3 linked regions of the Homo sapiens genome follow. The protein of the gene in region 1 binds, or shares a complex with, the protein of each later gene. Each region holds a gene or a part of one and is shown in the gene's direction. Other genes may lie near its edges.

Region 1 (9,758 bases):
AGGAAGGGCATGATTGTAAGGGGATTGAAGTCAGAGGCATCTACTGTGTCCCATTCTGCTCTCCTACAATATGGAAGTGAAGACAGGAGGCTGTAAGGGAGGCTGTGTGGCAGATGCAGGGGAGATGAGAAATGCCTAGGAGAAGAAAAATAAAAGTGAGAAAACATTAAGGTGTTCTGCAGGTGCAGCTAAGTCTTGAACATTTACTAAATTACTATATTGAAAAGAAGCTAACTCTTGAGTGTTTCAAAGTAATTTAACCCCTTTGGGTGTTTGGTGTGAGTGGGTGGGGCGGGTGGGGAAAGGGCTTTGAAGCCTTTGCTGAAGGATGTGGCTGGGGGTGAGGCAAGGAGCTCACCTGATCACACACTGTGCTTACTTCATCAGGTTGCCTAATGCTCAAGGGTTAAAGGTGATCATTCCTATGGAGGTAACATTTCCCTTCCAGATCTAAGACAGTGGATACAATTAAGGTTTGTAACTCAAGCTTGTAACCACTTTTTGGTGCCTGAAACCATCCAAGTAGATAGTTTGGTTTATAAGACATTCTGTTGAATCTGGAAAACGTGGTGGATTAAGAAACCCTCTCTGCATCACAAAGCCTGGAGTGTTTGCTACTAATTGTGCAACTTTAGTTCTGGTTCCTTCTAGTCAACCAGAGAAGTGCTTTTTAAGCTTACGGCTGTAACCCATGAGCGGATCATGATATCACTTTAGTAGGCCAAGACCAGCAGTTTAAAATGTGAAAGAGAAGAGTGGTGTGGAAAACAGCATTTCATAAAACAGACACCCAGTCTTAATGTCAAAGTATTGCTCAGTGTAGGTAACGATTTTAAAAAGCCTGTTTCAATAATTCTGGGGAAAACTACATTTTTAACCAACTTGCCAGGGATTCTGATGACGACGTTCTAGAGGGCTACAAGAAATACTTAGCTATCTCCTTTTAACAAAATACTGTTGGTTTAACCCCCTGCAGGAGATGCTATTTCCAAATGTTGAACCAGATGCAGTTCTGTCGGCTATTGACTTAACTTTTCAAAATGCTACTATTGGCCGGGCGCGGTGGCTCACGCCTCTAATCCCAGCACTTTGGGAGTCCGAGGCGGGTGGATTGCGAGGTCAGGAGATCCAGACCATCCTGGCTAAGGCGGTGAAACCCCGTCTCTATTGAAAATACAAAAAAAATTAGCCGGGCGTGGTAGTGGGTGCCTGTAGTCCCAGCTGCTCTGGAGGCTGAGGTAGGAGAATTGAGTGAACCCGGGAGGCAGAGCTTACAGTGAGCTGAGATTGCGCCACTGCACTCCAGCCTGGGCGACAGAGCAAGACTCCATCTCAAAAAAAAAAATGCCACTATTTGTAGAACTTGCCAGTGCGCTAGGCCCTCATGCTGCCATCTTGGAGGAACTAGAAACTCAAGTGACATGCTTTTCACTTTAGTGATGCAGAAAGGCAGTAGCTCCCTTTGCAATAACTCTTTAACCTTACTTAGAATAAAATCGACAGACTATCCCCTTTTCTCACCAAGTTTTAGTTTAGAACTTTTGAGGTCTTTGGAAATTTACTCTGCTCAACTTCTCCTTTCATATTTTACATCTAGTGTTCCCCACATGAATGATTCTAATTACAAAGACAGTTGTAATCTCTTCTGGAGGCAGCCACACTGCTGGGATGCATGATTAGGTGAAGCATTTTAGCTGACCTGGGCTTGGATTGGCTATCCAAAGAAGAAAGTCAAAGGCTGACAACTCAGCCTGGGCAACATAGCGAGACCACATCTCTCAAAAGTTAAAAAATTAGCTGGGTATGATGGCATGCACCTGTAGTCCCAGCTACTTGGTAGGCTGAGGCAAGAGAATGGCTTGAGTCCAGGAGTCTGAGGCTGCAGTGAGCTGTGATCTCACCACGGTGCTCCAGGTTGGGGGACAGAAAAAGACCCCATCTCTTTAAAAAAAGAGTCTGAGAACTTCTGCACTGTCCATAATAAAAGGATCATGAAGGCCAGTCATTCCACAGGGTGTGGCTCCCAGGACCATGTGTGTGGCCATGAAAGCCTTCCAGTATGCCAGCACAGCATTTTTAGGTTCAGCAAAGCCAGCCTGCATGTACAATGCACACACTGGTTGCAATGCTTATTTCCCTGGATAATTTGGGTTGTTTGAGTGTTAACAATTGGAACTTATCTATATTAGCCAGAACTAAAGCCTGCAAAGCCATATCATGATTCCTGATTACATTAACTACTTGTGTCTTAGTGCTGTATTTTCTAACCTGTTACAATATAAGTGCAGGTACGGTACGAGCAGAATTTGGTCATTGGCCTAAGGTGGGGTGAACAGTTAAGTATCAGATAGGAATACGTGTGGGAGAAGGAATGCTAGCTCATCAAACAGAATTAACTACAGTAACAAACTGGCATAGTGCTGAGTCGAGAAATTAGTCACATGTATAAATAGAAGGAGACGATTCTCAGTGTTCCGGGCCCCCACAAACACTGATTTCCAGAATCTGAACAGAATTATTATTGGAACTTCAATTTTAGGAATTGAGGCTACAGTTTTGACTGTTTTAGTTCTAACAGTTAAGGTAGAAAACAAAACTTTCCTCAGTAGAAAACACTGGAGAGGCACAACTTGCTGGACTAAGGACTGAGATGTGTTCAGTGGGTTGTACTCTGGATAGGGAATGGTGGTTTGAGGGAATGAAAATCAGGTAAGCCCTATAAAGCATTCTCTCAGTGGAGGTGGAGTCATAGGATCAATGCGACATTTTTCTCTGTGGCCTGACACACCCTTCCTCTGGGGATGCTGTTTTGGAAATGATGGAGAACAGTCAGAATAGTATTGTTATCCCATTTTACAGATGTGGCTTGGAGGAATGAAATGTCACAAGCATACTTAGAGAGTGCATCTGAGCCTTAAACCCAACTTTTCTGACTCGTTTTACTGCGTTGTTTCTTTCTCCTGCACCATGATGTCTGCACTGGTTAGTTCCTTCTTTTGTTGGTTCACTGGACTTGCCAGCCTCTGAGGCCAGGATGCCATGTGGAGCTATGCTGCAGTGGTGTCCAGAGAGGCTCTTCACTCCTGTATGTCCTGCAGATGGATGTGCCCTGGGTTGCCATGGTATCCAGGGATGTCAATGCTGCCACTGAGTCCTAGTTCTTCAGAGTCAATCCCTCTCTTTGGGTATCTCATTCTAAAGTTGACCTTAGTTTTGAGAGTCAATGGATTCTTCTCTCAGGGACAGTATGTCCATCAGCCAACCTCATGATATTGAAGCATATGAGCTAGAATGCAATTTATTAATAAAAAATGAGAACAGTATTTGCCAAGAAGAATGGGCGTTTATTCTTTAGCCAACATTTTTCCTCTGTGGATGAGTCATGGTGAAGGCAAAAGCATGGAACCACCTGGGAAGGAACCAGTTGGAAGGGGAATATACTTGACAGTGTTTTCCAGCTCCTCATAACTTTTGCTAATTCTCTTGTTGATAGATTCATACCAACTAAGAAAACCAGAGACTGGAGTCCTTTGACCGTGATGGTTTCTCCTTTGGGCGATGCTGAGGCTACTTGTACGGTTCTTTTTCTACTTGTAGGCTGTTGGCCATTTTACTGACCCATTATTTCAGGCAGTGTCAGCCTCAGTGCTATTGACATTTCGGGCTGGATAATCCTTTGTTGTAAGGGCTGTCCTGTGTACTGTCGAATGTTTACTGCCTTCCCTGGCCTCTGTTCACTAATGCCAGTACATTAGTCGTTTGTGACAACCCCAGATGTCTCCAGGTATTGCAGATTGTCCTATCAATTTTCCTGTCCCCAAGCTGAGAACTGCTGCTTTGTCTTCCTGTGTTAGTGAGACCAGTTGTGTGTTATCAGATAGTCTAGACTTTCAACAGCAGTTATAAGTGCCCCAGTTTTCTCCTTACTGGTTATTCCTTAGAGTCTAAGGTGGTGTATTAATAAATGAGAGGGCTCACCCTTTATGTTCATTTCTTTCCTCCAGCTCTCCAAGTTTCCTTTCTAGCTCTCTTCTCTCTTATACTGCAGTTGTTTCTCTAATCCAAATGTTTTTCAAGTTTCCTTTCCATGCATGTTTCTTCCTAGTACCTGTGGCTGAAAAACACTGTAACTAGTGAGTTTTTGTCTCAGTTTCTTAACAACGTTTTGAATTCTGACCACTGGTTACTGCCTTAACTGTAACCTTTACATAATGGCAATAAGATAAATGAAATGAGGGAGGTGGGTAGCAAAGCTCAGCTTGGCTTGTTCAGAGGCCTTTGTCACAAGACAAAGGAAATGTCTGTGTGGGAATGAGTTAAGTGAGTTCAGTGCCTCCTCCTTTGCTTGTCAAATCCACCTTGACTAGTTGGATAGTAATGGTTATTGATATTCCATTAGTGCGACCAGGACATTGTAGCAGGTCAGGGAGAAGCCTTCAAGGTACTGCTTTATGCGAAGTCCTTTCCCACTTTGTATATTAGATTTCTGTCCTAATCTTGCCATGTTAACTTTCTTATGTAATTATCTGTCAGCCTTTTATTTACCTTCTCTGCTTGGCTGCTGTCGTAGTCCAGAACACCATCGAGTGGCTTAAGTGCCGTAGAAATATGCTGGGTTATAGACTAGCTATGACTCCCCTAGGCAGCCGCCTTCTTACAGTTCACCAGCCCTATAGCAACCCTCCACCCTTCCTTCCGCCCTTTGTGTCTTTTTTTTTTTTTCAGTTCAGAATTGCATTTAGAACGCCAGAGTTTTGTGCTGTGGGGTTCAGTGGCAGAGCTGGATGAGCTGTATTTTCCAGGCTGCTACACACAATTACCCTTAATTTTGAAGAGTAATCCATTTCAAAATAATTTTTTTTTTGTTTTTGGTCTCTTTAGCCCAAATGCGTAACCACAGCTGGCTTTACCCTTGGCCCTCAGAAAGCATGTGGCTTGGGAGGTAGAGCTAGTGGAGGAGTTTGGTCAGATTGCTCATTTTTGGTCAAGTGAGGAGTGAATTCCAATAACACTCAGTAAGGCTGGTTTTTATTTGACTCCCGTCCACCCCTCCAACTCTCCCCACCCCACAGTTTCCTAGATTTTTTTTTTTTTTTGAGATGGAGTCTCACTCTGTCACCCAGGCTGGAGTGTAGTGGCGCGATCTTGGCTCACTGCAAGCTCTGCCAACCGAGTTCAAGCGATTCTCCTGCCTCAGCCTCCTGAGTAACTGAGATTACAGATGCCCACCACCATGCCTGGCTAATTTTTGTATTTTTATTAGAGATGGGGTTTCACCATGTTGGTCAGGCTTGTCTCAAACTCCTGACCTCGTGATCCACCCGCCTCAGCCTCCCAAAATGCTGGGATTACAGGTGTGAGCCACCACACCCAGCCTCTTTGTTTTTTCTTTCTTTTTCTTTTCTTTTCTTTTTTTTTTTTTTGAGCTAGAGTCTTGCTCTGTTGCCCAGGCTGGAGTGCAGTGGCACGATCGTGGCTCACTGTAACCTCTGCCTCTTGGGTTCAAGTGATTCTTCTGCCTCAGCCTCCCCAGTAACTGGGACTACAGGTGCCTGCCATCACACCTGGCTAATTTTTGTATTTGTAGTGGAGACAAGGTTTCACCATATTGACCAGGCTGGTCTCGAACTCCTGACCTTGTGATCCGCCTGCCTTGGCCTCCCAAAGTGTTGTGATTACAGACATGAGCCACTGTGCCTGGCCCCTAGATTTTTTTATAGTGGACTTGTGCCTCAGTTATTCCAATTGTGGGCCACTCTGGGAAGTGACCACTACTCAGAAATTTTGGTTTGGGGGAGTGGGACCGATTCTTTGATATATTAAATAATAAGTGCTTTGTACATATATGTGTGTGTGAGAGAAAGACACACACACACACACACACCCATGCAGCTCTAATAATGAAAGGCCTTTAGAAGCAAAGAAACAATTATATCAGCTGCTAAATCCTGTTTTCTCCAGTGCTGTCACTTTTATAGTAAGTCAGCACAAATCACATGAAATTAAACATTTTGTCAAGGAATGAATATGTTTCCATCATCTCTAGGCTTACTCCACTGCCAGGAAGCGACTTTGACTCATTAGAACTACTTTCTCAATTACTGTCCATTCTCCAACTGAAGGTTTTTGAGAAACATTTGCTTGGGTTTATATGAGAGAAGCACAGTAAAGCTTTATTTATTAATTGTAGTATATTTTAAAAACAGATGTTGAGCTTATCCTTAAAATGTATATAAATATTTTCAAGCTAAACTATTGCTGGGCTTATAGCCCTGATCATAATGCTTCATTCAGTCATTCAAGTCAGTCAACAGCCACTTTGCTTGTAATTTGTATGCTGTAGCCTGGGCACTCCATATGTGGAGAAGGGGTAGGGAGGGCTGTAACAGGCAAATCTGTTTAGAGACAGTCATAACAGTATGCTAAAGGTATGTTTACCGTGATTGCAGATCACAGAGGTAGGTGTTCACAAATGAGGTGACTTTTGAGAAAGATCTGGAAAGCTGAGTATTAAGAGAAAGAATATGATACATCCAGGGAATATAGCAATCAGGGTGATGGAGGACAGTCTGGAAGGGGCTTTATGTCAGCAATCCCAGGAGCTGGGCATTTGGATTCAGCAGAAAGGAAAGCCAAAGGCTTTTAGGCAAGGAAAAGATGCAGTGCATTCCAGTGAGAGCAACCTGGAGGATAGATTAGATGGTACAGCTGGAGGGAGGGGCAGAGGAAAGATGGGAGCTCCTGCTAGGCCTGCTCAAATAAATACATGGTCTTGGTCAGATGAATAAATAAACAAAGCAGTGTGCTTGCTGTGCCAATGCAACTAGGAGACAGGTTGTCCAGCCCCCGCCTTCCAGCGGGTGCCAGCCAGAGTCTGAGCAGAGGTAAAGGAGGGGAGGCCAGCACTCACCGTGTTTGCCTGTAGATATTGATGACAAAATTAAATGATTTGCTAAGTGATTGGATTTGGGAAAAAGGAGAAGGAGTCTTTGAGGTTTAAAGCGCCATAAGCACATACTTGTTAATGGAGGGTTCAGATCTCCTGTTGAGTACAGCAGATGGGTGACTTCAGGTAAGTTAGTGATCTTCCTTAGCCTCAGTTTTCACATCTTTCAAGTGTAGGTAATATAAGTCCCCACCTCTTCGAGTAGCTGAGATGATTAAATGCAATCATGATTGTAAAGTAGAGTACCCTAAAAGCGTTGGGTTGGATTTGCTATTATTATTGAGGTTATTATCACTGATTCAGTAGTGTTTTTTTTTTTGAGACAGAGTCTCATTCTGTTGCTCAGGCTGGAGTGCAGTGGCGCGATCTCGGCTCACTGCAATCTCCGCCTCCCGGGTTCACGCCATTCTCCTGCCCCAGCCTCCGAAGTAGCTGGGACTACAGGCTCCCGCCACCACGCCCGGCTAATTTTTTTTTTTTTTTTTTTGTATTTTTAGTAGAGACAGGATTTCACTGTGTTAGCCAGGATGGTCTCGATCTCCTGACCTCGTGATCCTCCTGCCTCGGCCTCCCAAAGTGCTGGGATTACAGGCATGAGCCACCGCGCCCGGCCCGATTCAGTAGTTTCTATTCAGGTTCTTTATTAAACTATCTTGCTGAAATCATAAAAAGAGATGCATTTTGTATTTAATTTTCTTCAAGTGACCTAGGTAACTGCTCCTAAAGTCTTGACTAGAATTAGTTTGCTTTATATGTCTTTTCTTCAAGAAAACAAGAGGAAAGGTGGGGTTGGCAGGGAAAGAGGAGATGTTGGTCAAACCCAGATAGAAAGTTTCAGTCAGACAGGAGGAATAAGTTCTGGTGATTTTATTACACAGCATGGTGGCAATAGTTAATAATTATATATTGTATATTTCTTTTTTTTTTTTTTTTTTTTTTGAGACGGAGTCTCGCTCTGTCGCCCAGGCCGGACTGCGGACTGCAGTGGCGCAATCTCGGCTCACTGCAAGCTCCGCTTCCCGGGTTCACGCCATTCTCCTGCCTCAGCCTCCCGAGTAGCTGGGACTACAGGCGCCCGCCACCGCGCCCGGCTAATTTTTTTTGTATTTTTTTAGTAGAGACGGGGTTTCACCTTGTTAGCCAGGATGGTCTCGATCTCCTGACCTCATGATCCACCCGCCTCGGCCTCCCAAAGTGCTGGGATTACAGGCGTGAGCCACCGCGCCCGGCCTATTGTATATTTCAAAACAGCTAAAAGAGGGGATTTTAAATGTTCCCACCACAAAGGAATGCTAAATATTTGAAGTGATAGATATGTTCATTAGCCTGATTTGATCATTCCTTAGGTATACATGTATCAATACGTCCAATTGTACCTCATAAATATGAATGATTACTATTTGTTAATTAAAAATGAAACTTAAACCAGTACAGGAGAAGTACCAACTGTTAAAATACAGACGGGGATGAGTTATGATTGACTGTGAATTAAAATAACTGATGTAATGACTGAAGTTAGCAATTTAGGGTCCTCAAATGAAAGCTCTTCTAATGTGTATCCCCAGTTCCATTTGAACTAACCTGAGATTTTACTGTTTTATTGTATTATTAATTTTTTTTTACTTTGAGGGGAGAGAATGGAGATGGCTCCATTGGAGCTCTTTCCCTTTTCTTGATTCCAGCTTTTGAGGTTGTTTGCATTTGTCCAAGGGTGCACAGGGGCCCTGGGAGAAACCCCATGTCATTGGAGTAACAGTGAAGGAGCAATTGTCAGGAATTTCATTCAGTTGAACTGGGTTTCATATGATTATGTTGCATATAAAGGAGGTTCAATGGGTCCATTCATGCTTTGGAAATGTCCCTTTTTCAATCGTTTGGAACCTTCCACCAAGTAGGGGACTGTTGAAATGTTCATTGGCAGGTGGGTGGTTGTAAATTGTTAAATTTTCTTCTTTAATCTGAGCCAGATGATCAAGCTGTCAACCAGATTAGAAATTATCCTGGGAATAAAAATAGAAAAATAAAAGAAGAATGTCTGTAGTCCCAAGTGTACAGACCCAGTGTGGCCCCATTGTCCCAGCACGTTCAATTACACCAGCTTTCACTTTCCAAGTGCAGTGGGTTGGACAATTCATTTTATGGCCACCTAAGTGGAAGCCACCTGCTTCCATTTCCAATCGCTCTCTCTGGATGTGGCCGGTTTGTTTGGGTGCTTTTTCTACTTATTGCTTCTTCAGAAAGGCAGCAACTAGCTTACAGGCACACCAGCTCATTAAGCAGTAGCTCATGTACCCATTAAACAGTCACTTAGTAACAGCTTTTAAGGAGTGGGTTGAAAAGAGAGAAACCTTCATCTAGACACTAAAATGCCCTGGATAGAAGTATGGGTGTCAGAGAGCCATGTGCCAAACAGAAACTGCTTCTCCAAATTAGTGCTTTGAAAGTGATAACTTTTGGTCTCCACCTTGACTTCCATTACTATAGTCATGAAAATCACTTGTCTAATGGCTGTATGCATATCTTCATTGGACCTGACAAATATACAGTCTTCAGTGTGAAAAATTTCTGGTCACTTTATTTTACCTAGGAGAGTGGTAAACATGGGTTATTCAGCAACTACAGTGTCCGCTGTGTAGCAACGCCTCTTTTCTATATATCAGGATTGGTGTGTACCTTGAAATAGAATCCAATGGTAAATATATGTTTAAAGACCCATAAGAAGACTTAGATAATGAAATACAGATCTACAGTAACTCACTGGAGAGTTATGTTCTTACCAAAATATCTAGCAGCTTAAAAGTGATTTCAAACA
Region 2 (10,784 bases), on another chromosome or scaffold:
AGATCAGGTAACTGTGATTTGCAGAAATTATTCTGGCAATAGTGCTGAGAAAGTATTGGAAAAGGTAGAAGCTGGAAACAAGTGACATGGTCTGACAGACCTGTACTGATAACCCAGCTCACCGCTGTGTGACCTTGGACAAGACCTGAAGTCTAATTTGGACAATAATGACGGGAATAGAAAAGTGTTCAGATTTGCGAAATATTTGGTGATTGATTAGATGACCAGGTGAGCAGGCAAGACAGATCAAGTTTAAATAATAGCTGTGGTTTTGGAAGATACTATTGTCTGCTAGATATTATGCTAAACGTGCTACATTCAATCATTCATTCAACCAATATTTACTGAGCAAAGTATTTTCATACCAGGCACTGTTCTAGGCACTAGGAATATAGCACTAAGTAAAACAAGCAAAACTTCTTGCCCTCCTGGAGCTTACATGTTATCTCATATAATGAATATCCATAGCAATCCTGAGGTGTAACACAATTTAGATTCATCTTACAAAGGAAATTAAAACTGACACGTTCAATTTTGCTATCTGTGAGGTTTTTTGTTTTGTTTTGTGTTGTTTTTGTTTTTGCTTTTGCTATTGACAGAGTCTTGCTCTATCACCCAGGCTGAAGTGAAATTGCATGATCTTGGCTCACTGCAACCTCCACCTCCCTGGTTCAAGTAATTCTCCTGCCTCAGCCTCCGAGTAGCTGGAATTACAGGTGCACACCACCATGCCCGGCTAATTTTTGTACTTTTTGTTTTAGTAGAAACAAGATTTCACCATACTGGTCAGGCTGATCTTGAACTCCTGACCTCAGGTGATCCACCCACCTCGGCCTCCCAAAATGCTGGGATTACAGGCGTGAGCCACCTCACCTGGCCTATCTGTGAGTATTCTTATCTGTAAAATTGAAATAATATTACCTGCCTTATAGACTTGTTATATTTATTGAGTTAATACGTGTAAAGCATATGTAAAACATATCTAAGTTGTTTTCCTAAATTATTATTCAGCAACTTCTCCAGGATCACACAGCAAGTAAATGGCAAAGATGAGAATTGGGGAAAATTTCCCCAGGGAATCCCGAATCAACTGGGCAGCTATAGTTGGGTTGCTCTTAGAATACCAGGACTGAGGAAGGAGAACTTTCCCAGAGGGGCATTATGCCAGATGATGTGGGTACTACCACTGGGCTTAGAAAATGTCAAAGATGCAAAGCTGTCCTGGAGGCTAACGGGACAACTATTGTTCTGCCTGCCTGGGAGAAGGGACCCTCTTGGAAAATAGGGCATGGCCATTGTCCACACACCCTTCATCCATTTAGTTCCTTGAGAGAGTCAAGAACAAAAGATTGGCCAGATGTGGTGGCTCACGCCTGTAATCCCAGCACTTTGGGAGGCTGAGGCAGGCAGATCACTTGAGGTCAAGAGTTCAAGACCAGCCTGGCCAACATGGTGAAACCCCATCTCTACTAAAAATACAAAAATTAGCCGTCGTGGTGGTGCTCGTCTGTAGTCCCAGCTACTCGGGAGGCTGAGGCAGGAGAATGGCTTGAACCTGGGAGGTGGAGGTTGCAGTGAGTCGAGACTGCGCCACTGCACTCCAGCCTAGGCGACAGAGCATGACTCCATCTCCAAAACAAAAGAAAAAAAATAAAAAAAGAAAAAAGATCAGAGGTTGTGACTCTAGAACTTTGTTTAATTTGTCACCTCTTTTTAGTTCTTTCTGCTGTCTCCTGTCTGGCCCATCAAAGCCCACAAAATGGGATATTGGACTTGTTTTGGGGGGCAGCAATAAAGAGGAGTAATGAAAAGGAGGCCAGTCACAGGGGCTCATGCCTGTAATCCCAGCACTTTGGGAGGCCGAAGCAGGTGGATCACTTGAGGTTAGGAGTTCAAGACCAGCCTTGCCAACATGGTGAAACCCCATCTCTACTAAAAATACAAAAAAGTAGCCAGGCGGGTGGCAGGCAACTGTAATCTCAGCTACTTAGGAGGTTGAGGTAGGAGGATCGTTGGAACCCGGGAGGTGGAGGCTGCAGTGAGCTGAGATCGTGCCATTGCACTCCAACCTGGGCTACAGGCCAAAATTCCATCTCAAAAAATAAAAAATAAAATAAAGGCCACGCACGGTGGCTCACGCCTGTAATCCCAGCACTTTGGGAGGCCCAGGTGGGCGGATCACCTGAGGTCGGGAGTTCGAGACCAGCCTGGCCAACATGGTGAAACCCTGTCTCTACTAAAAATAGAAAAAGTTAGCTGGGCGTGGTGGTGCATGCCTGTAATTCCAGCTAATCAGGAGGCTGAGGCAGGAGAATTGCTTGAATCTAGGAGGCAGAGGTTGCAGTGAGCAGAGATCGTGCCACAGCACTCCAGCCTGGGTGACTCTGTCTCAAAAAAAAAAAAGAAATAATGAAGAGGAAACTGTGTTCTACTCCTGAGGCTGGCTGAGAGAGGGAAGACCAAAGGATCAAGAGGAGCCCCAAGAAGGCTGAGTCCCCTGGAGCCACAGCAGAGGCAAAAGAGAATTCAGATTTAAGGGTAACCTAAAGGGGCTGGGACTGGGGCTAAGCCAAGACCCCTGTGGATCACTGGTGAGCTCCTGGAGCTGGAGTTCAGTGAGGAATAGGCTGGGAAGACCCCTTTGGAATCCTCAGGGCACTGGTGAGATCAGTTCAGGGCCTTTCTCCTCTCACTCTCTGTCCCCTCCTCTCTCAGGGAAACTAGTCAGCTTTAGCATTTTGACATTGAGAGAGAGGGAAGAATTAACCAAGGGCGGGGGGATACCTGAAAACATCAAGGGAGTGTGGAGAAATTAACTAATGTTTATTTGCTGTACCCTAGGGCAATTTACGAGGGCTCCACATGCATTATGTCGTTTAATACTCACAATCTCATGCAGCACTTGCCAGTCCCATTTTATTGTTTTTTATTTGTTAGTTTTTAGAGACAGGATCTCACTCTGTCACCCAGACTGTAGTGCAGTGGCATGATCATAGCTCTCTGCAACCTCAAACACCTAGACTCAAGTGATCCTCCCACCTCAGCCTAGCAAGTAACTGGGACTACAGGCATGTGCCACTATGCCCAGCTAATTTTTGTGTGTGTATGCAGATGGGGTCTTGCTATGATTGCCTAGGCTGGTTACAAATTCCTGGGCTCAAGTGATTGTCCCACCTTGGCCTCTCAAAGTGCTAGGAATAGAGGCATGAGCCACCACGCCCAGCCATTCCCATTTTAAAATGAAACTAAGACTGAGAAGTTGGCTCTGTTATATGCTCTTACAGTATTCTGTACTTTTTTTTCTGGAGAAATGTTCTTGCTATGTTGCCCAGGCTGGTCTGAAACTCTTGGGCTCAAGCAATCTTCCTGCCTTATCCCCCTGAGGAACTAGAACTGGAGACAAACACCACCATGCCCAGCAGCACTCTACTTTTGTATGATTACCTGTTTAAGGTCTATCTCCCTTACCAGTTATATCAGGGCAGTTTTCTCTACTTCATGATTGGCATGTAACACTATGTCTGGCACCAAGAAGATTTTCAATAAATATACATTGAATATTTATGAATATGGGAGATCTCATATGACTAATCAAAGGCCATACTGTGTTACAACCATCCTAATCTGTCTCCAAAACCTGTCTGTGATCTCTATTCTACCCCACCAAGTGCTTTCATATTATCTCACTTCTAAATGTCCAGGTTCAATGTCCTTGTCTCTCAGCTGCTTGTAAGCATACATGCACACCACCTACCAAGAACTCACCTATTCAGGGAAAGCTAGTGAGAGAGTAGAAAAAAGAAACAGCCCATTTGGGATTGTGCCCTCTTCCTACCCTCTTCAAGTCAGCATTTCTCCTCCTTCAAGAAGCCTTTACGGACAGCTCCACCTGTCCACCTGCTTCCCTTTCCTCTGGCCCTTCCCATACCTGTGCCACAAAAGTGTTTCCAAGTTACCTGGAGTCTGATTGTTCTACACATATTAGTACTTTATTAAAGCAATTTAACATTATGGATGTTTAGTGAAGGCAAATGTGTGCTCAGGCCTGCCTCTGTCAGGCCCAGTGGGTGGACACAGAAATGAATCAGACGCAACCTCAAAGGACTTATAGTCAGTGGGGGAGACAGATATTAGGCACAGATGCAATTTACTAGAGCACAAAGCATGATGACCTAAATGGTATTAAAGAACTATGAGCAACATGCTATATGCATAAACCTTAATTATTATTCTGAAGAGTGTATCATAGAAGATGAGAGCTCAAAGGTATCATCTAGTTCAACCTCTGTTTTCCAGTGGAAGAGTTTGAGACAGAGAAGGGTGGGGCCTAGCCTAAAATCTCAATCTGTCTGTCTGAGCCAAGACAGACTTCAAGTTTGTTTGTGGTTTTTTTTTTTTTGTTTTTTGTTTTTTGAGATGGAGTCTCGCTCCGTCGCCAAGCTGAAGTGCAGTGGCGCGATTTCGGCTCACTGCAACCTCCGCCTCCTAGGTTCAAGTGATTCTCCTGCCTCAGCCTCCCGAGTAGCTGGGGTTACAGCCATGCACCATCACACCCAGCTAATTTTTGTATTTTTAGTAGAGACGGGGTTTCACCATGTTGGCCAGGATAGTCTCGATCTTCTGACCCCATGATCCGCCTGCCTCAGCCTCCCAAAGTGCTAAGATTACAGGCGTGAGCCATTGTGCCAGGCCAGACTTGAAGGTTTTCTAAAGCCCAGCCTTGGACTTTTTCCTCCTCTTCTGATAGCTTCATATGCAAAGTCCTATACTTCATCAGACCATGAGATCTTTGAGGCTGGATCAGGTTCTCCCTCCTAAACCAGGGCTAGGCAAGCCCAAGACACTTACAGGCTCAGGAAATGCAATCTGATCCCAGGCTGCCAATCCAGTCTTTCAATCTGCAGCACCTAATGTGCTCCCTACTCTTATCACTATGTCCTTAAATTGATTTTCAAATATTTTTTGCAGGAAACTTAAAAACAAAATTAAACTCTCTATGCAGAATACTAGTAAATAAATCAGATAAAAAGCAAACCTTCTCTGGTTGAAGGGGAGAGAGTCCATAGCTCCACTGTTTTTCCTGTTCTTAAGTCCTGGGAAGGGAATTCTAGGAACACATATCAGAAACATTTCTTCTGGAGCTGGATGTGGTGGTGTGTGCCTGTAGTCCTAGCTACTTGAAAGGCTGAGGTGGGAGGATGACTCGAGCCCAGGAGTTCCAGGACAGCCTAGGCAACATAGTGAGAGTCCCATCTAAAAAAAAACAACAAACAAACCAGAAAAAACTTTTGTGCTGGGACATAATCTTTAATGGCGTCATAGAAGCTGCTTTAGCGTATGGTGTTCCTCTGAACCCTGTCATTTCTGGGGCTCACAATCCTTTCTTTATTCATGAAATACCAAGCACCCCAATGTCAAGTGGTCCCAATGGTGTATGGATGGGAATGAGAATTTCCCCTTGTGCCTCCTGCTCTCATGTCCTCCACAAAGAGGAGTTTGTCTGAAGGGCTACAGGGACCAGACCGAAGAGGAGACAAGAGACCCAAACACTGCCTGGCAGGTCAGGGGAGGCTTCTAGAGAAGGATCTTTGAGAAAGACTTCATCCACACAGTCATTCACCAGCCTGAATCTGATAAAGCCTCTGTTTTTGAGGATGATACAGTAGCCACCAGCTACACATGCTATTGACCACTTGAAATGTTTCCAGCCAAATTGAGACAAATTGTAAGTATAAAATACACACCGCATTTCAAAGACTTGGTACAAGAAAAGAATGCAAAATATCCAGTTAATTTTTATAACCAGTAATTTTTATGTTGATTACCATGCTAAAAGATAATATTTTGAGGCCGGGCGCAGTGGCTCATGCCTGTAATCCCAGCACTTTGGGAGGTTGAGGCGGGCAGATCACGAGGTGAGGAGTTCAAGACCAGCCTGGCCAACATGGTGAAATCCTATCTCCATTAAAAATACAAATATAAGCCAGGCATGGTGGCACGTGCCTGTAATCCCAGCTACTTGGGAGACTGAGGCAGGAGAATCATTTGAACCCAGGAGGCGGAGGTTGCAGTGAGCAGAGACCGCGCCACTGCAGTCCAGCCTGGTGACAGAGCGAGACTCCATCTCCAAAAAAAAAAAAAAAAAAAAAAAAAAGATAATACTTTGGCTATGGCTAAGTCAAATATAGTTAAAATTCATTTCGTTTCTTTTTACTTTTTTTGAAATGTCATTAATAGACAGTTTTAAATTACTTACGTGGTTCCTATTTATTTTTTTAAAAATATAAGTAGGCTGGGTGTGGTGGCTGACGCCTGTAATCTCAGCACTTTGGGAGGCCAAGGCAGGTGGATCAACTGAGATCAGTAGTTCGAGACCAGCGTGGCCAACAGGGTGAAACCCCGTCCCTACTAGAAATACGAAAATTAGCCGGGTGTGGTGACATGCACCTGTAACCCCAGCTACTCGAGAGACTGAGGCAGGATAACTGCATGAACCTGGGAGGCAGAGATTGCAGTGAGCCGAGATCGTGCCACTGCACCCCAGCCTGGGTGACATCGTGAGACTGTCAAAAAATATGTGTGTGTTTGTGTTTATAGAGACAAGGTTTCACCATCTCTGTAATTACAGGCAGACGCCACCGCGCCAGACTCTTAGGGTATGATATTTTTAAAAGATATTTGTTTAGTGTTTGAGATACGCATTGACAACAGGTCTTTTACACCCATTCTCATGTTATCTTCAAAACTACGGGGTGAAATATAATTATTCTATTTTACCAAAGACAGATTTGAGGCTCAGAAAGGTTAAGCTATTTATTCCTGGAATCAATCCGTTTATTTGAAAAGCTTCTGGAAGACAGGGATCCTGTCTTAAACGCTGTGTTTCTTCACAGCACCTAGCACTTAGCTCTCTCCACGTGGTAGGCGCTCAGAAACTTTGTGCTGAACGAAGGATATGGATTCTCAAGTCAAAGCTCCGAGCGCAAAGCCAGGGAGCGAAGCACCAGAGGGCGCCCATGAGCCCGCCCACCCGCGGGTCGCCGGGGCCCAAGCTGGACCTCAGGCCTGGGTGCGGCTCTTCAGCCCCAAGCAGCTGCGCGCCCCAGCAGAACAGGGGGCGAGGGGGCGAGGGAAGCCCCAAGTCCTCCGTCCGCCCCGCCCCCTCCCCAGAGCCAGGCCTCGCAGGGCTGCACGGTGCTGAATGACGACTCGACATCCTGTTTTTGGGGCCCGCGGCTCCGCCTGCGCCTCTGCTGATCTTGTCTTTCCCTTGGGTGCTGACGCCAGCTCCTCTTCCCCCCGAGTCTCCCCACCCTCCCCAGGGGTCTGGGGCCTTCCCACTGCTGAATCACCACCACCTCGCACTCCCCCGGGGCTCAGGGCAGGGGCGGGGACTGCCCCAGCCTCGGCCACCACTCTATCCCTGGGGTTGACTGAAGGGACCAGGCCCAGGGGCGCCTTTCTCAGCATCTTCCCGCGGAGGCTGGTGGGGGCGGGATGGGGGGAAGAGGACGAACGCCTAGCGCCCAGGGTAGGGCCTCCAGGGGTAGGGTGGCCAGGAGGAGGCGGAGAGACTTGACCTTGGGAGGCCTGACTTACTGACCGCAGGGGCAGCGGACTGGGAGGGGAACGTGGCAAGCCCGGGACTGGGCCGGGGGCGAGGCTGGGGGCGGGCCGGGGCTGGAGAGGGGGAGATCGGCCCTCGGACTTCCTGGTCGGGCCCCGCCCCGGCCCGCCCCGCCTCGCCGGCCCGCCCCCCCCACTTCCTCCGGCCTCCCGCTCTCACTTCCTTCTCGAGCCCGGAGCCGCTGCCGCCGCCCCCAGCTCCCCCGCCTCGGGGAGGGCACCAGGTGAGGCCCGGCCGGGGCTGGCGGGTAGGGGTCCGGGGGAGGAGAGCCCGGCCGGCCCAGGACTCGGCGCGGGCGCCGGCTCATGAGTTTGCTGGCGGAGGCCGCGGGCGGGAGCTTCTCGGTTCAGTCCAAGTAGGGCGGGCGCGGCCGGCCGGGCGGGGCGGGAACGGGGCCACTGCGAGCCGGCGGAGGCTCGGCGAGGGTGGCTTCCCGGCGGCTGTACCGCCTCTAGGGAGCCGAGAGGGACCCCTGAGGTCGGAGGGTCCCGGGCTCCAAGATAAGTGTCTCTGAAGTGGAAGAGCTCAGAGCTGGGAGATCGGACGCAGGTGGGGTGTCCTCAGAAGTTGGTGGGGGGGGTGTTGAGAAGTGCGTGAGGGGAGAGGGCTTCTGGGCTGGAAAAGGCGCTCCCTCTGCTCTGGCAGTTGTGACACTTGGGGTGAGAGGGGCGGTGTCTGGGGCCTCCGAAAGCTCTCTCCCTGTCAGATGGATGCTAATACAGACCCACACTCGGTCTGCAGCCCCAAGGCCCTCTGCACTCAGGAGGACCCGGGTTGGGTGGGGGAGCCCCGCCGACCCCAGTCGTTGTCTGTATGTCTGTTTTCCTGAGTCCCGACCTTACCTGGAGCCAAGCAGTAGGTATTTAGTGAGCAGACGCTGTTCCTAGCTGACCAGAGCCTGGCCTTGCTCTTTTGGGAGTAACTTGGTCTTGCCCTGTAACTGGAAGTGGAAGGACTCTCATTCAGAGGTACTGATAGTCCCTGACAAGTTTTTGTTGTGTCTTTTGGGGACAATTGAGAACCATCTCCTAGTGTTCCTCTTCATTCTTAGTCCCTGAATTATACACATGCTCCTGTCGTCTCCCTCCACACCTTCTTTAGTTTCTACCCACAAATCCGCCATCACTCTCTTCTCATCCCTTCCAGTCTCTTTTCCTCCAAACATACGGTCATACCTAGGCCTTGACCTGTCTTCACCTACCCTGCCCCATGTTCGTCTTGGTCCTCTGCAACCTGCCCCATCCCTTCCCTTCCCAGCTCTGGCACCCACACACATGCACCTCCTGGTTTCTTCCATCACCCCTCATTCCTTTTGAACCCTCAGCCTGTCACCCTCTCTGTATCCTTCCCTCCCACCCACTTATCTCCAGCTTTGGAATCAGTTGTTGAAGACTTAGTGAGTTCTAGAGTCTTTTCAAACCTCCCTAGCTTGGAGAGGCAGTCTGCAGCCTCCCAGTGATAGAGACGGATTAAAGAGCTGGAAAGCCTGTGTGTGTGTGTGTGTGTGTGTGTGTTTGCGTGTGTGTTCGCACGCGCGTGTCTGTGTATCTACATCTTCATCTCTTAGAGATGGATTAAAGAGATGGAAAGCCTGTGTGTGTGTGTGTGTGTGTGTGTGTGTGTGTGTGTGTTCGCGCGCGCGTGTCTGTGTGACTACATCTTTATCTCTTACAGACAAAATAACTGCCCTCAGCCTTGAGAGGGCCCAGAGCAAGGGAAGCCAGCAGAATGAAGGGAACCTGCAGTGAGTGAGGTTGTGGTTAGGCAGGAGGAAGCCGTTTGTAGCAGTCAGGGTAGGGTGACACAGGAATAAGACTTGTAAGAGAGGCCGTGGGAAATCAAAATCACCCCAACCCGTGGTGCTTGACCAAGAGGCCAGGCCTAGAAGCCGGAAGACAGCCTGAAGGTCCCTGACTCCATTACCTACTAGTTCCAGCATCACCTGGTGGAAAGAATGGGACCAGCTTGGGTGTGATGGAAATAAAGGGAGGAGGCAAATGCAGGATTCTGGAGGAAAGACTGCAGCTGGTCTAACTTCGGACTTAAGAAGCGGCGGAGGCAAAAGTGTCTGCTCCTTTCCTGCTACCTTCTGGGGCCTGCCTAGGCTGGGTACCCGCATGCCCTGATCTGCATCAGGGCCTTAGTGACCAGGAAGCCCTCTGGAGTTCTACTGACCCCTCTGCCTTCAGGCATCCTTAATACTCCCCATCTCACCTAGGACCCTATTCCTTCTCAGGAATTCCTCCCAAATTTAACTTCAGTCCATCCTGGCTATGGAGGCTCTTGTTTCCACTCTAGAGCTCCATCCTCAAGCTTTTGGGGTGCATCTGAGGATCTTGCTCCTGTCTACCTCCTCTAGTCATCTGTATTCATTTCTCTCCACTAGAAAAAAAGAGAAGTAGAGGGGAGTAAGTGCTACAGCTAAATTTAAGGGCTCTCCCTGTTCCCCATTCTGTCATCTTCCCATGTCACAGTCGTCCCTCTCCCATGAATTGTTCTTCTTCCAGTCCTGCCCTTCCAACCACTTGTCTCTCTTCCCATTTCTTGGAGGTACAGAAGTTTGGGTCCGGGAAGAAATCCCAGGGACCTACATAAGAGCCCAGGTTAGAGAAGGATGTGCATACAAGGCACTTTCCCAGCATCACAGCTTAATAAAAACCCCAGGAGTCCCAGTTCCTAGGCTGGCAAACCAGTAGTTACTTTAGTATTCTGCGTAACTGAGCAAACCCACAGGGCTCTGATGGTAAAGACAAGATGGGTGAGACAGGGATTCTCCCAGGTGAGATCTGGCCCCATTGGAAGTTTGAGCTAATTGCAAAAAAGGCATCATTGGAAAAAATGTGACCAGGGCGGGAGAGATTTTAATGGGAAAATATTGGGGGGTAAAGGGAGGTGGTGGCTACAACCTAGGAGGCTGCCGCTGAAGTCTTGGCTAAACAGGTATGGTCAAGGTTGTGACATGAAGAAGGGGGCTCAGGCCCACACTGAAGACTCCTTCTATATACTGTAGACCCATTAGTGGTGAGGTCAGTAGGGGTCCGTGACAAGAGCTGAGGAGGGAAACCAAAGACAAAGCCTGGGCCACCTCCCCAGATCAGACTGGTTTTCCTGTCCAGGGTCCAGCTTCCTCTTTTGTCCTCATCTCATATGGGGGGAG
Region 3 (10,578 bases), on another chromosome or scaffold:
ACTCATTACTTCATACGCAGTTATTATTGTTACTTTACAGTTGGTGGCTGTGAAAAAATAAAATCGTTCTGGTATTAAATACAAGTTCTGGATTAAATGCTTGTTTTCTTAACTGACCACAAACAGGAAGAAAAATCTGCTGAATATGACAGTCGTCTAAACAAGATAGTCATAGTGTCCGTGTGCCCAAGGAACTGAAGAGTGAAACTTCACTCTTGTCACAAAAAATGATCAGATTTAGGCAAATAACTTCCTACTCTTGCTACATAGCCCAGAGACTTCAGCAATCAAGTATTTTTCTTTATTTTGTTTTGAAGAAGGTTGAATAAAATTTGTCATTTATTCATGTTCTTCTATGGTCATTTTCCCTGTAAATCTATGACTTTCTATAGCTACAATCATTTTGCGGCATAGACAATCTAATTATTTTCATTTATGCCTACATTATACATTTTCCACATTTCTTCTAAGTTTTCATCATCTCTCTTTTTGTTCTTTTTTTTTTTTTTTTTTTTTTTTGGCAGGGGGAACAGGGTCCCCCTGTCACCTAGGCTGGAATGCAATGGTGCCACATCAGCTCACTGTAACCTCCACCTCCTGGGCTCAAGGAATCCTCCTACCTCAGCTTCCTGAGTAGCTGATACTACAGACACACACCACCACACCCTGGTAATTTTTGCATTTTTTGTAGAAACAGGGTTTTGCCGTGTTGCCCAGCCTGGTCTCGAACTCCTGGGCCCAAGTGATCTGCCCGCCTTGGCCTCCCAAAGTGCTGAGATTACAGGCATGAGCCACTGCGTCCAGCCCATCATCTCTTATTTTAAACAGTTTTATGAATATAATTTTTCAATGTATATAGGAATCAAGACATACGGTAAATAAACATAGTTTGTTTTTTTTAAAATCAGGTAGTTTGATTTCATCTCACCTAAATATGGATCTAGTTTTCAAGAAACTAATGCCTTCTTACTGCTCACATCATCCACCTCTCCCAACAGTGGAATCAGCTCATTTAGACACAGCAAAGAACATTCCAGAAACAACACTAGAAAAAAGAATTTTCCCATGTTCATGAAAAGGGTAAATCATAAGTATAAATCTCCTTGTGACAGAGATGAGGAGATAATAGCATTGGAGCCCCGAGCATTATCTTCCCATCCATCAGAGAAGCCGGACCCCCACAGCCACATGGCAGAGCCTGTGCAGACTCAGAGATGCTCACGACCTAAGTCACTTGCAGAGTGGAGAGTGAATAATGATGTTGGAATCCCTGGGGCCTATGAAAAGGTACTTCTGGGACTAGGGTGATTCATGGTTTCCTTTGTCCTGCTAAGCTCATGGGTCCCAGAATTACAATGTATCACCTACTCCTGGCTTACTTAGAACCATCCTTAGGAGCCTGCAAAGCACTGCTTAGAACCAATTACATTATTTGCATTGTTATCATTTTTTTGGTAGTTCCATTAGCCACTGACTCGTATAGGATCACAGAATAATCTTCTTTTATCTAGAGAGAGAGAGAAAAAAGACACTTTAAACGACTCCACAGCATCTCATAGAGAAGCCATCAGACCAGCCTGATTTGGCAAAAACAAGCCTGGTAATCAACAGGGAGGTGAGGCTCTTGCCAGTTCTCTTCACATCCTGTCCATTTATTCTCTAAGGCATTGTAAGGGTTAGTCACAATACTCATGTCAAACTAACCCTCAAAGCCACTTACCCTCATTTCTTTCTCCATGGCTCCTTCAAGCAGAGCCTGTGAGTGTCTGTGCGTGCTTAAGTGTGTTTGTATTTGTGTGGGTTTTGGAGTCTGAAGATCTCTGTGGAATATGCTTAATGTTTCTTCTGAAAAGATATCAGAGGAAAAAAAAAGGGTATTTCTGGGCATCACGCTGTCATTCCAACTGCCTGTCTGGTTAACTGTCTAATTTTAAGCCTCATTCTAATAAAAGACTTTGAAAAGCTCTGCTTTTATGATTTAAAAGGACATTCACACTAGGATTTAGCCATCTGATATAGCAAAGTGAGTGGATTTCAGTTTTCAAAAGGAAATGATAAACATACTGAAAGCTGTAATTAAAATTTTCCATTTTCCTCCAACTCTCTTAAAGCCATTGTCAAATTTGAAATCTCTGGCACCCAAATTCAAACCTCTAGTTTTGGAAGAAGAAGACTTCAATGCAAAAGTGGGATGAGGCAGTTGAAATCGCTTTGGTAGAAACCCAGTTCCACTGGATAAGAGCATTAACATTCTGATGTATGGTACATTTGAAATATACCTTTGGTCAGAGAACAGAGGTCATCCAATTTCCCTAAGCACGGAGAATTCATGTAACTTTGAGAAGCCCTGAGTCCACAACAGGCAAGTCATATAATCCAGTGCAGAGCGCTTTAGCTCCTAAGGGGCCACATGGAGAAGTTGCTGAGGAAGGCGTGAAGAAGTGGGTCCTAAAGAAATATTGAAAGGAAAACTTTGATACAGAGCAACTGGGACAGGAAAGGGTGAAGACAAGATAGATATAAATGGTGACCAAGACAATGGCAACTCTACTCCCTTGCTATTCAAGCCCCAAACCTTAGAGTCACTCTTTTTGTTTTGAATTAATATTTGTTTAGAGACAGGGTCTTGCTATGTTGTCCAAGCTGAAATGCAGTGCCAATTCACAGGTGCCATCCCATTATTGATCAGAAGGGGAGCTCAAGAGAGGGTGCCACCTGGAGCCTGAGGCAGTTCAAATGTGAAGTCCCGGCTACGGGATCTTTGTCAATAATGCAGTCAGTGACAGAGAAAAGACAAGGATGCATCCAGTTGCTTTCTACACAGGGATGCTCTCTGGGCTGCTGGCTGGTTGGAAAAGGGAGGTCTTGGGGTAGATTTCCCCCTGGATATGTGGGCCTGAATTTCTTCAGCTAAGGAGGAGTACCGAAGTTTTGGGATATAGGACTTCCAAATTAGGGCTTTCCAAATAATTGACCCGCTCCATTTCTGACCTGGACCAGTTCACCCCTCCTTAGGCAACCTGGTGGTCGCCTGCTCCCAGGATGTCACTATATTGATGCGGAACTTAGTGCAGACACCTGATCAGCATAGCTCACTGCAGCCTGGAACTCCTGGGCTCAAGCAATCCTCTTGCCTCAGCCTCCCTAGCAGCTGGGACTACAGGCATGTGCGACCTAGCTGGCTTTAGAGTCATTCTTGACCCAGCTTGTATCTCACATGCAGGGACAAGAACCAAGGTGTGTGGGGCCTGAAGGGTGTACGATACGGGTAGGGCTCTTTAAAAAAAAAAAGAAAAATACAAGCATATCTCTTTCTGGGGGAAAACTTTCCAAAAAAGATTGAAGCCTCACAGTAGTAGATCCCCCTGCCGTTCATGTGGCCCTCCTCTTGGTTCTTTTTCATGCTGTGATGCAATCATAGCTCACTGCTAGCCTCGACCTCCTGGGCTCAAGCAATCCTCCCACCTCAGTCTCCTGAGTAGATAGGGCCACAGGCACAGCCACCATGCCCAGGATATATATATAGTAGAGGAGGGTCTCACTATGTTGTCCAGGCTGATTTTGAACTCCTGACCTTAAGCAATCCTCCCACCTCAGCCTCCCAAAATGCTGGGATTACAGGTGTGAGCCACCACATCTGGCCAGGCTCTATTTTCACGTATGTCAAGAACCCAACATCTTTTTCACCTCCATCCTTATCCTCCTGGACCCAACTACCTTCATGTCTTGCCTGAATGACTGAAATAGCCCCCAACATCCATCCATGTGGGCCTCCCTTGCCCCTTTACAATGGATTCATACCACAGCAGGCAAGTTCAATATGTTCCAGGTTGGCTCAAAGCCCTCCAAACCTCGCTTGTAGTAGTAATATATAAAGTCCATATGCCTGCCAGGGTTCTGCTCTATCTGGCATTCCTCTGCCTCTTAGACCAAGTTTCCTCTCACCTGTTACTCAGCTCTCATTACCTAGGATCTCTGGGTGACCTGGGAACCTGCCAAACACGCTTGGTGTCCTTTGCCTTTGCTGTTCCTCTTTTCCAGAATACTTTCTCCCGGAATCTTCACTTCCTTCAGGTCTACACCTCAACCTCAGCTTAGCAGAGCTGCATTCCCAGACCACTCCATAAAAACAGCAGCACCCTACACGCCCTATCCTCCCTGCTTTGGATTTTTCTCTAATGTTTACTCTCGTTTGGTGTACATTTCTTTACTGTCTTACTCTCCCCGTCTAGACTAGAAGCTCTGTGAAGGGACACATTCTACTGTATTCACCGCTGCACCCTCATTCTTAGAGTGATGCCTGGCACTTAACGTGTAGGCATTTAATATGTGTGTGAAGAAGGAAGAAGAAATTACCTAACCTGGGAAATTAGAATCATGATATACTAATGGAGGAAGATAAATTATTTTAGGGAAGATGGTGGAATTCTTTCTGGATGTCAAGTCTAAAGTGACAGAGGAATTTCTTAAATTATTGTTAAACATTGTGAATAAATACCTATTGGTTGATGGAGAAAAAAAAAGCCAGCTCTAGTAGTTACCCACCGTGAATAGGACTTAAAAAAAATTTCAGACCTCGTTTGGTAAAAAACCACCAAAGTTAAAATGCACTAATTCTCCAATGAAACTTTACTATCTTGTTACCTTGTTTGCCTATCTATCTTTACTGTCTTTTTTTTTTTTTTTTTTTTTTAGACGGAGTTTTGCCCTGTTGCCCAGGCTGGAGTGCAGTGGCGCGATCTCGGCTCACTTATAGCCTCTGCCTCCCGGGTTCCAGCGATTCTCCTGCCTCAGCCTCCTGGGTAGCTGGGATTACATGAGCACACCAGCACGTCTGGCTAACTTTTGTATTTTAGTAGAGAAGGGGTTTCACCATGTTGGCCAGGCTGGTCTGGAACTCGTGACCTCAGGTGATCCACCCGCCTCGGCCTCCCAAAGTGCTGAGATTACAGGCATGAGCCACCACGCCTGGCCAACTACCTGTCTTTACTATCTTTACTACATGTTTGTCTTCCTTTCTTTTATATTCCTAAAACGCATGAAAACCTTCACAGGCTGCAAGGAGGATATAATTTCTCTCTAGAGGAATCTTCTTCGAAGGTGAACGTAATTAAGCTGGTCATTTACTCTACTTGCAATGTTACTTCTCGGTACAAGGTAGGGAGAAACCCCTGGATCTTCATTCTCCAAGTCTCTCCAGGAAGAAATGAATTCCAAGAGGGGAGCTCCAGAGAGGGCGCCACCTGGAGCCCAAGGCGGTTCAAATGCGCAGCCCCTTTGGGATCTTCGTCAAGAAAAGGCAGTCGTTGACGGAGAAAAGACGGGGATGCGCCTTGGCCCTTTCTCCACGGGAATGCTCTCTGGGCTGCTGGCTGGTTGGGAAAGGGAGGTCTGGGCATGAGGGTCTAAGTTTCTTCAGCTTAAGGTTGGGGGGTCCCCGGAGTTTGGGGATACAGGACTTCCAAATTAGGGCTTTCTAAACAATTTCCCTGCAGAGGATCCCCTAGCAAACGGTCTGATACTTCTGAGGAGCCCACCTCCCTTGCACCAGCTCTCCGGTGATAAAAGTTCTGCTTTCCAGGCTCTAAGCGGTGGCCCCGGGAGATTCAGTCTGCCCTGAGTCCGGCTTCTCCCGCTCGCGGCGCGGGTTCAAGCTCCAGGGGGTGAAGGCAGAAGTCAACTGCTCATTCATTCAACAAATATTTATTGCGCGCCCGCTTAGTGCCAGGCACCGGAGGTGCCCCGAGCAAGAAGCCGCTCTCGCTGATCCGTTTCCGCTCCCCAAGTGTCCGGCGCGCGCCGTGGGAGCGCAGCCCGCATCCCTCGCCCACCGGCCGCCCGGCCTGGGCGTGCCCGGCTCCTCCAGCGCAGCCCTCTGTCGGGAGCCGGACCCCCGGGACCCAGCCTCCGGGGTATCAGCCGGGTGGGGAGGGCGGGAGAAAGGCAAAGTGCCGCCAGCGTCAAAGTCCCGCCGGCCCAGGAAGCCGCTCCAGGGAAGCGCGCGAGGCGGAGCCGCAGTCGGCCCCCGCCCGGCAGAGCGCAGAGAGCGGCGCGGGCGGGAGAGGCCGGGCGCCCGCGGCTCGGAGGCGGCCCCGGCGGGCGGAGGGTGCGGCCGGCGGGAGGGACTGGGGCGGCGCCAGGAGGGGCGCGCACTGCTGCGCTGCAGCCCGGCCCAGCAGGTGACCGCGGGCGGCGCGGGCACGGGCACGGGCGCGGGCGGCGCGGCGAGGAGGCGGCCCGCGGAGTCCAGCGAAGTTTGGCGGAACATGGCGGAAGCGTCTGGGGCACGCAGGAGCGCGGGGCGGCGGCGGCCGGAGCCCGAGGAGCTGTAGCAGCCTTAGTCGCCGCCGCCGCGGGGCGAGGTCGCCGCCATGGCCCGCTGGATCCCGACCAAGAGGCAGAAGTACGGGGTTGGTGAGTGCGCGCCCCACCTTGTCCCGGCCCGACCCACGCGGCCAAGTTCGCGGACAGCGGCCCTGCCAGGTTTGCGCAGAGCCCGGCGGAGGACCCTGGCCGGGGGCTCGGCCCGGCTGCGCAGCTCTGGGAGCCGGGGACGGTAGGAGTCCTCTCCAGGGAGCGCCGATGGGGAAGTCGCCCAGGGTTTGGGGACTCCGAGTGCTTCCAAGTGCAGCTGAGCTTCGGGACCGTAATCCCGCTCTTGCATCCCAATCTCCGGCACTTCACACCAGGGAAATGTCAACGCGAGGGGGGCGCGCCTGCTGCTCTTTTGGGGCCGCAGCTCTGTGGCTCGCCCCGGTGCGCCCAGCGTGGGTTTCACCTGGGAGTAGGTGACCAGCCCGGGTCGGCACATGGACTGGTGCTCATTGTCCCAGTGCTTTCTGCCCCCCGCTTTCGTAGGTTCTTCTCAGACGCCCCTTAAGTGAGGAGTTGAGGGTGGAAAGCCGCCCTGCCCCCTTTCCTCCAGAGACTGGGATCTTGATGACAGTTGTGAGCTGGATGGAAACTAGAGTCGTGGCGTGGAAGTGATGGAAGGGACAGGAAGTTGTGGCACGGGAAGGGGGTGGCTGGCCCCTGGGGCTGTTTGTGCGCACTCATCCCCTAACGGAGCCTGTCTGGAGAGGGTGTAAGGCTGCCTTCCGGATCCTGAGTTTCATCCTGGAGACGAGAAGAGGACATTTTATTAAGGAAACTGTGCCAGACCCCGTGCTGGGCACTTGGCATTCAGAACAGCGGTGCTGGAGAGCCCCGGGTTGTGCGCAGGGGTTGCTGGTGGTGGTGCTTTGGCTCCGAAACAATAGATGTGCGGGGATTTTGACCCAGGTGGAAAGTCAGGCTCCTTTGGCTTTTTATCAAGGATTGAAGTTATTGAGGGCCTGTGGGAAGACTTCTGCCCTGAACGGGGTGATTACAATGGCAGTTAGACCTGGGGTGATTCCCTACAATAAACACGGCTGAGTGTGTTGCGAATTTTATCACTTCCTCTCAGATCCATTCATTTGGCCTGTTTGTAATTTAGTCTTTGACTTTACTCCCTTACTGAGGTCCTGTTTTTCCTCACCTCACTGGTTAATGAAGTGCAGTCTCAATTAAGAGCTACTCAACGTGTCTAGGGGCTTTTCAACTCTGTAGCCAGGAGTCAGGGTTTTTTGTTGTTGTTTGTTTTGTTTTTTAACAGTCTCATATTTACTATATTATTCTTAGGTTGTGATCCTTTATATATTTATTATTTTTTGTTTTCCCTCAATTCAAAAGACATTTTCTTTTTTGCTCTTAAGTTGCTTTTAGAATCTTAGTCTCTCCCTTAGCTGCATCTCAGAAATGGGTAGAGATGTTGCTTCTGCCTCAGGGCTCTTTTTTTTTTTTTTTTTGGTTTGTTTGTTTTTGAGACGGACTGACGAGGGAGTCTCACTCTGTCGCCCAGGCCGGAGTGCAGTGGCGCAATCTCGGCTCACTGCAAGCTCCACCTCTAGGTTCCAGCAATTCTCCTGTCTCAGCCCCCCTCCCCGAGTAGCTGGGATTACGGGCTTGCATCACTACACCTGACTAATTTTTGTATTTTTAGTAGAAACCAGGTTTCGCCATCTGGGCCAGGCTGGTCTCAAACTCCTGACCTCAGGTGATCCGCCTGCCTCGGCCTCCCAAAGTGTTGGGATTACAGTCATGAGCCACCTCACCTGGCCCCTAGATGAAAGCATATTTACAATGCCCAATCACTACAGAAATGTTATCAACTCTAATTTTATCAGGATTAAAAGCTCTTTTCAAAACTATTCAGTTGAGGGTAATTAATGCAAACATGTTTCAAAAATGTGGTTTTTATTGCCATAGTCCTAGGAGCAAGTATAATTGTTTTTAATATTTTGTTTTTATGTTCTGGAGTCAGTTTACTGTGTCACTTATCAGTCAAGAAAAATATTTGGGCCAGGTGCGATGGCTCACGTCTGTAATCCCAACAATTTGGGTGGCAGAGGCAGGAGGATTGCTTGAGCCCAGGAGTTCAAAACTAGCATAGCAACATGGCAAACGGGTCTTTACAATAAATACGAAAAAAATTTAGCCGGGCATGGTCGCCTGTGCCTGTGGTTCTAGCTACTGAGGAGGCTGAGGTGGGAGGATAGCTTGAGCCTGGGAGGTTGAGGGTGCACCGAGCCCCCATCACGACACTGCACTCCAGCCTGGGTGATACTGTGAGACCCGATCTCAAAAAAAAAACTATATATACATATATATACGTATATATATATATACACACACACACACACGTATACACACACATATATGTATATATGTATATACATATATATGTATATATGCGTATATGTGTGTGTGTGTATATATATATGTATATGGAAATATGGGTGGAAATTGTGTGTGTGTGTGTGTGTGTGTGTGTGTGTGTAAAATATTTGGATTGCATTTCCAGGGCCTAGGTGTTAGGGAAACTGCTCCAGGATATAATTCTGAACACTTATTTCACCAGACATAGATTCTGGTTTGTCTGGGTTTGACAAAAGGACCCACAGTTGGGATAAATTAACTGAAGAGAGAAATCTCCATTGCTTATTGCTAAAACTCATTGTTTTTGTCACCTCCTTGCTTATGTTTATGTCACCTCCCTGCTTGGAAGTCTCTCGTGGTCAACAGGATAAAGTCTGAGCCTCCGTTCCAAGGTTCCTATAATCTGGTTCAGCCTATCTTCAGCATTATCTCTCGAGGCTTCTTTCACTAGCTCTCCAATGCAGACCAACTGCCCTTCCCACTGTTGTGCAACATACCCTGCAGAGTCCCTCCTTTGGGACTTTGCTCCCATTGTGCCTGTCCCTGCCAGGAGTGCCCTCCCAACTCTGCCTCAGACAGCTCACCTTTCCTTGAGGGCTCAAATCCATTCCTACTCCCTTCTTCAAATTTGCTATTTGTCAGACTGTCCCAAACCTCCTTGCTTCTTCCTCGCAGTTCCTGGACTGTGCCATCCTTGGGTTCAGTGAATCAGACCATTGTGGTTTTGTATTCCTAGCACTCAACAGGTGTACCAGGTATTAGTGCATTCAGTTTGCTTGTCCTTGATGTTGGGGTGCCGTTCTAAAGTACACTAACCTAGCTTGTCTGGTAATTGAATGCAGTTTTTTCCTCTTCTTTTTCTTCCCATTAGGCATAACATCTCATTCACCCCAATATGAGTTGAATTTTGTTTGGTTAGATGGAGGAAGGGAGAGCCTCCACTCTGTCTTTATCTCTGCAAGTAAGAGAATGAGATATTCTGCTGAGAAAACAAGGAAGCATGGAGCAGACAGACTTTCTTAAATATAGTTGGGAAAATTGGCTTTCTGGACTTCTCTAAGTGTGTACTGGTCAGATTTGGTTTCTGGATGAAGGAACCGTAGGATAGTCATGTTGAAGCATTTGGATGACTCAGAGCTAGCTATGACTTTGCCTGTTGTGCTCTAAGAGGAGTGTGCCTCTGCAGAGCTAGTCTGTGTGAGGATAGAGCTTTGGACTCAGTATGAATTGTGCCTGCTGAAGCTGGCAGTCGCTACTGTCATATTTTATCTTGGTGCCACTCTTGGCTGTTCCTGACATATCCTAGATGTTTCTACAGGGACTGAAATGCAGCCTGTCTGGGCTTTCTTAGTTCTTAAACAGCAGTGTTGGCTCAGGCTCTAGCATTAAGTGGATCTCAATGGTTTCTGTGTGTTATCAAGTGAAGTGACTGATCTATTTGATTCTTTAAACTTATGGTGCTCTAGTACCCCAGTGTTAAGTGCTCAGTGGCTAAGTGTTCTTCCCTGGAGACGTGGAAAATGTGCTTTTTTCTCATCTTTTTTCTTTCTTTGTTTCTCTTTTCTCTCTCTTTTTTCTGTTTGAGCATATGAAGATATAAAACACTTTTAAGCAAACATTAGTGATAAATATCCAGAATAGTCTGATTATAAAAACATTTATTTTTAAGTTTGCTTCCACACAAGCCATTATGTAAAGAATAGCCCCAGATTAGGTTGACTATGGATTCTTTGCAAAGCTTTTTTTTCTTTTCTTTTCTTTCTTTCTTTCTTTTTTTTTTTTTTTTTTTTGAGACAGGGCCTCACTCCACAGCCCAGACTAGAGTACAGTATGATCATA

Evidence for each region.
Region 2: the proteins of ELMO1 (region 1) and RHOG are in contact, whole or in part, in a crystal structure (PDB 7Y4A), measured with the Homo sapiens proteins. Residues at the interface, in NP_001193409.1 of Homo sapiens: Lys9, Val10, Ala11, Glu13, Tyr18, Pro19, Leu21, Met22, Ala54, Asn71, Gly72, Ile74; in NP_001656.2 of Homo sapiens: Val36, Phe37, Asp38, Trp56, Tyr64, Arg66, Leu67, Leu70, Ser71, Pro73, Gln74.
Region 3: the proteins of ELMO1 (region 1) and DOCK5 are in contact, whole or in part, in a cryo-EM structure (PDB 8JHK), measured with the Homo sapiens proteins. Residues at the interface, in NP_001193409.1 of Homo sapiens: Ile7, Val8, Lys9, Ala11, Tyr18, Pro19, Leu21, Glu23, Glu36, Asp39, Gly40, Ser42, Asn71, Gly72, Gln392, Asp393, Leu400, Glu401, Lys468, Arg531, Glu535, Leu536, Lys539, Leu547, Gln550, Gln551, Asn554, Arg555, Asn582, Thr688; in NP_079216.4 of Homo sapiens: Met1 (codon at 6,372), Ala2 (codon at 6,375), Arg3 (codon at 6,378), Trp4 (codon at 6,381), Val14 (codon at 6,411), Ala15, Ile16, Tyr17, Asn18, Ser22, Gln23, Gln30, Ile31, Gly32, Asp33, Thr34, Glu39, Tyr41, Gly43, Trp44, Arg46, Tyr48, Lys56, Ile58, Pro60, Glu61, Thr62, Tyr63, His65, Leu66.

The regions. Positions count from the first base shown.
Region 1 is NC_000007.14:37,436,107-37,445,864, reverse strand, and holds part of ELMO1 (engulfment and cell motility protein 1), read left to right. Parts: intron 1-9,758. UniProt on the Homo sapiens protein: Involved in cytoskeletal rearrangements required for phagocytosis of apoptotic cells and cell motility. Acts in association with DOCK1 and CRK. Was initially proposed to be required in complex with DOCK1 to activate Rac Rho small GTPases.
Region 2 is NC_000011.10:3,837,960-3,848,743, reverse strand, and holds the start of RHOG (rho-related GTP-binding protein RhoG), read left to right. Parts: upstream 1-7,784; 5' UTR 7,785-7,850; exon of another isoform or gene 7,851-8,176; intron 8,177-10,468; exon of another isoform or gene 10,469-10,677; intron 10,678-10,784.
Region 3 is NC_000008.11:25,178,538-25,189,115, forward strand, and holds the start of DOCK5 (dedicator of cytokinesis protein 5), read left to right. Parts: upstream 1-6,151; 5' UTR 6,152-6,371; coding exon 6,372-6,414; intron 6,415-10,578. UniProt on the Homo sapiens protein: Guanine nucleotide exchange factor (GEF) for Rho and Rac. GEF proteins activate small GTPases by exchanging bound GDP for free GTP. Along with DOCK1, mediates CRK/CRKL regulation of epithelial and endothelial cell spreading and migration on type IV collagen.